Regions from separate parts of the Homo sapiens genome. Here region 2 is linked to region 1. Evidence: fine-mapped expression QTL. Tissue or cell type: whole blood. Region 1 holds a variant in brackets; the other region holds the start of a gene. All regions are shown on one strand. Distances are between the middles of the regions.

Evidence for each region. PIP is the estimated chance that this variant, and not a neighbour inherited with it, causes the effect.
Region 2: it holds the start of CEP85L, and the variant in region 1 is fine-mapped to the expression of CEP85L in whole blood (TOPMed, PIP above 0.99).

The regions. Positions count from the first base shown.
Region 1 is chr6:118,718,926-118,721,569 of GRCh38, forward strand. No RefSeq gene overlaps it. Among named protein-coding and RNA genes, the nearest start is that of CEP85L, 69 kb to the left of the region's middle. RefSeq lists an enhancer at 1,069-1,118. The variant A/G (reference allele first, on the strand shown) is at 1,090.
Region 2 is chr6:118,650,057-118,652,556 of GRCh38, forward strand. It overlaps CEP85L (centrosomal protein 85L), which reads right to left and starts at 1,535. Exons shown (of 13, transcript NM_001042475.3): 1 at 1,141-1,535. The coding sequence starts at 1,213. RefSeq lists silencers at 919-1,228, 1,429-1,888.

The DNA.
Region 1 (2,644 bases):
ACCTCACCTCTACGGAGTGACCGTCCAAACCTTAGAGTAGGGACTTGGCGAGAGGTGGGGGCATAGAAGCCTGTGGCATAAATGGCAAGTACGGTCTCTCTGTGTGATCAGCATGGGTCAGTCTCCTCCAAACATATGCTTTGGAAGTCCCTGTTGTGGTGAAAAGAGCCCTGCATGGAGTTCAGAGGGCATCTTGAGTCACAGTCCTGTCACTTACTGATTCAAAACATGTGATGGCTGTGCCATGATATTTTCTATTCCACGTACTTTTATTTCTTTTTTTTCTTACTGATCCTGGCCATTTCCTGGACTCCTCTGAGACCCAGTTTCTCCCTGTTCATAACAGGATCGTGACACCTGTTCATTCCCTGTGCTCAATTGTTGTTGCAGCTGAGTTCGTGATGAGTTGAGAGTCTGGGTCAAGGACATGGGGTGTTCAGCAGGCATTAAACATGAACCTCCCAGGGGGGCTGAGCATTGTCAGTCCACCTCCCCGCCCATCGCTCAGACCAGGTCTTGTCACATTTGCTTCCTTCAGCTCTGATTTCACAGCTCAGGGTAGCTGGAGGTCACAAGGCCCCTAGGCACCCACAAGCCTCTGATGTCCAGCGTGGTTCATGTGTGCTTTTGCCACAAGTGCCTGCAGCGGCATGAGGCAGCTGGAGGTTTGGCTCAGTGGATGCAAGAAGGAACACGAAAGCAGGGTTGTTTTGGTTTGGGGTTTAGATTTTCTCCCCTTTGTTCTTTCACTCAAGAAAGCATTTGAGTCTGGGCCTATCTTCCTGGCTGATTTCTTGTCAGAGTCTACTATTTTTGTTCTTGTCTCACATGACTAATGTTCTTAATTTCATTTCACTTTAATTTTTTCCTTTTGAACTCTCATCTCTTCCTCTTCTGATCTGATCTCCTTGCTCCACATTCCCATCCTTTCCCCCTTTTCAGTCCCCTCAAGTCCTTTTGAAAGCTTCCACACAGATAAGCAGATTCATCTTTCTCAATACAGATTAGGGGCAGCTCCTCTGAGGGGGGGAACCCCTCCATGCAAACATCTGCAGTTGCCCTGTGGGCCCCTCTGGCTCAGACTGTCTT[A/G]CTATAAAAATACATCTTATACCATAAGCCAATGCACACGGGTGTAGGTAGAATTGCAACAATATTTAGCCTCAAAACATGTGATGGCTGTGTCACAATATTTTCTATTCCATATACTTTTATTTCTTTTTTCTTTATTCTTTTCCTCCCTCTCTCCCTTCCTTCCCTCCTTCCTTCCTTTTTCCCTCCTTTTCTTCTTTCTTTTCCTCCTCTTCTTCCTTTCTTCTTCTTCCTCTCTCTCTCTCTTTCTCTCTCCCTCACCCACTAAACTCATCTCAGGACTCATTAGAGTCATTAGTGGATTGTGACTTGTACTTTGAAAACCACTAATTTAGGAGCACTGTCTACCTGCCCTGGGGAAAAGGCCCTTTGCTTTGTTTTCTGAAACACATATTATCTGTATATAATGAGAATCCACTCCCCACCAAACAGATGAAATTTAAATACTCCTGGGGTGAACTGAGAGGTAAGGACAAAATGACAACAGGTCTCCAAATTGTGGAGTCATCTTGGGGTTCAGGAAGTTGGGATGATTGCTCTGATGCTTTGAGCTTCCCTAGTTCCTCTTATTATGATGCCCCGGTATTTTCTAGCTACCTCTCTCTTCTCCCCGAATCCCTGCAAAGAAAGTTCTAAGGAAGGAACTTGTGGTAAGCAGAATAATGGCCCCCAAAGATGTCCATGCCATAGTCCCCAAAACCTGTGAATATGTTTGAGATGTTAATGGCAAGAAGAAATTAAGGCCGAAGATAGAATTAGCATTGCTAGTCAGCTGATCATGTAATGGCAAGAATATCCTGGTTTATCTAGTTAGGACCAATGTAATCACAAGGGTCCTTATAAGTGAAGGAGGGAGGCAGAACAGTCAAGGTCAGAGTGATGTGATATGAAACTCCAGCAGCCATTGCTGACTTTGAAGATGGAAGGGGCCACAAACCAAAGAACGTGGGCAGCCTTTAGAACCTGGAAAAAGTGAGAAAATGGATTCTCCCCTACGGCCTCCAGAATGGACAGCAAGACTGCCATTACCTTGACTTTAGCCCAGTGAGACTCATGTCAGACTCCTGACCTCCATAAATGCAATACATTTGCATTTTTTGTTTTGTGTTGTTTTGTTTTGTTTTGTTTTGTTTTTGAGGGAGTCTCGCCTTGTCGCCCAGGCTGGAATGCAGTGGTGCAATCTCGGCTCACTGCAACCTCTGCTCCCGGGTTCAAGTGATTCTTGTGCCTCAGCCTCCCGAGGAGCTGGGACTGACTACAGGTGCATGCCACCACACCTGGCTAATTTTTGTATTTTTGGTAGAGATGGGGTTTCATCATGTTGGCCAGGCTGGTCTTGAGCTACTGACTTCAAGTGATCTGCCCTCCTCAGCCTCCCAAAGTACTGGGATTACTGGCATGAGCCACCGCACCTCACATTTGTGTTGTTTTAAGCCACCAAGTTTGTGGCAGTATGTTTCAGCAACAATAGGAAACTAACACAGATGTGTTATTGGTCAATTACAACGCACTATGAATTAGAGCATTTCTGAGTCCAGGGGCATTTTTCTTTAAA
Region 2 (2,500 bases), 69 kb before region 1:
AATGCTGCTTCTGCTTTTTTGTTTTGTAAATAACAGCTTTGGAAATGTATGCAAAAATATCTCTAAGTTACACAAGTCGAGCTCAAACACTTTGTGGAGCAAGGTTACTTAACAGGAGTCCCAGAAACAGCTAAAATTGTAGGGAAAATTTTGCGTATGTATATATGGCATTGTTTTTTCTGCGCAGAATGTCCATATAACTCAGTTTCTCAAAAGGCCTCAAAACTCAAGATTAAAAGTGCCTGGAAAGACCATCATCTTTAGAGAACATATCACAGGCAACCCAAGACTTATTTTTTATCCCAAGTTAGGGGAGGATTTATCCTAATTTTGTGGCTCCTACACAACTTCTGAGCGACGCAAGCATGAAATGGCTGTCCGATACAAACAGACCCCTTCAGATACGGAATGCAGCAAACCCCTAATTTTCCTTGAAGGGGCCACGGAAAGCCAAACGGATTCGTAACCCGGTTGCTCAATGGTCCATTGGCTACTGCAGGACGCGCCCTCCTCTTACGCCGCAGGGGCTGCGGGGCGGCGACCAGGTTCCTCCGAGGGGCTGAAGTTCCCTTGGGGGTGGCTGAGAGCGGCCGCATCTCTGGCAGCATCCTCCCTCCCGAAAACGCGCCCTAAAAGTAGCGGCTGCGGGCGTGGGCACAGCCAACCCCAGCCTGCGCCTACCAGAAGTCGGGAGGGCGCGGAACTGCGGCCCCTCCGAGACGCGCCCGGGCCGCCGCCGCAGCACTGTCGCAGCGACCTTCCCGCCCGGGTCCCCGCGAGCAAACGGGCAAGCCCCGTTATCACGCAGGTCACACACCCCACGAGTAAAAGGAAAAAACCGGGCAGACAATAAAGCCCAACCCGCGGGGGCCCAAGCGAGCTGGAAGTTGGGGGCGCTGGGGCTGCAGCCCAAGGAGGAGCGGCGGGGACGACGGGATGCGGGGCTGATGCGCCTGGGACGCGGCAAGCCATATGTCAGCCCGGGTGCTGACAGCGGGGAGGACACTGGGCACGCGGCGGCGTCGGGGAGGCGGCCGGGGTAAGACAGGCCTGAGGCGGGAGGGGAGCGGCGGCGAGGTCCCGAGGCGCCGCGGTCGGCCGTGACCCCCACCCCAGCCGGGGCGCTGTCCCGTTCCTTACCGGCAGGGAAGCTGCGGGCTCCGCCGGGGCTATCCCGGCCGCTGGCCTCCGGAGCCAGGAAGCGCCCCCACATCGCGGGCGAGAGGGCCGGGTGGGCCAGGGACGCCCGACTCCTCACGTCCGTCCTCCTGCTTCTTCGGCGGCGGAAACTTGCGCGGAGCGTGGGCCTCGGCGACACGGGCAGGAGGAAAGGCGGGATGGCTGGTTAACGGCTGCTCAGCTACGGGCGGGGAGCGCAGGGGCCAGATTCGCCGCACTGCCGGCGCCTGCCATGGCCAAGCCGGCTGGGCTGAGGCCCGCGCCGGGGAAGCGGCGACTCGGCGGTGACGGCTGCTAGATCCCCGGCTGAGCCCAGGCTCAAAGGCTCCAGGCGAAGTTGCAGCTGCGGGTTCTCTCCGCCCCCTCCGCCGGCAGAGCCAGAGCCGGGGCTGGGGCCGCGAGGGGGCGGGGCCTCGGGCAATGACTTCAGGCGTGCGCGGCGCCGCGCGGGGCGGGGACTGCGGGGGGCGGGGACTGCGGGGGGCGGGTGAGCTACCCCGACCCCGCTTCGCCTCCTTGGCGGCGACTGGGCTGTCCCGCCCTCCCGCCGCATCCCTCTGTCTCCATCCTCCCGCCCTGCGAGTTGAGTAGAGGGCAGCGACTTGGCCTATTTTGCGATACTCGCCCCTCCCTTGGGTAATCCCTCACGCCCTCCCTCCGGGCACCTCTGTGAAGACACGTGGAAGACCTGCCCCTGGCGTCACAACCGCTCGAGATGAAAAAGCCAAGCCAGGGCGCGGCTGAGGGGGCTTCCAGCCTCCCTTGGAATTAGGATTGGGATTTAAATCCTCATCTGTATTCCTTCGTTTATAGATTACTTTAGGGGCAGAAAAGGGGTGGTTTTCCTTTACTAATTTAATGGGGGCGTGGGGGCAACACAGGCACCAGAATATAGCACCGGGATGTGCACCGGAAAAGGCCCGGGGGTAATTAGTACCCGAGGGGGAGAGGGGCCGTCATTGTAATCGCACAACGTTTCAGATTAGCAAGCAGAAAGTAAAAATGGCACCAAAGTCTGTAAAGGGAGCCCTTTCCTCCTTGCCCCCTACTCCTTCACGTTCTTCCTCTTCTTGGCCAGTTTCCACCCTTCACCTGAACCCTTAGTGCAGGAGGAGACGTCCTAAGGAAGGGCGAAAAGGGACAGCATCGTTTTATTTTTAAATCTTACTTCTCACTGGCAATATGGTGATGCTTCCAACGTTTAGTTACGAACTAGTTCGTATAAAAAATTCTGGGCCAGCACTGTGGTGGGAGGCGGGCTCTGCAGTAGGCCCATCACTCAGAGGTAAGTCGGAACGCAGGTCGCTTAACTAGAGAGGCT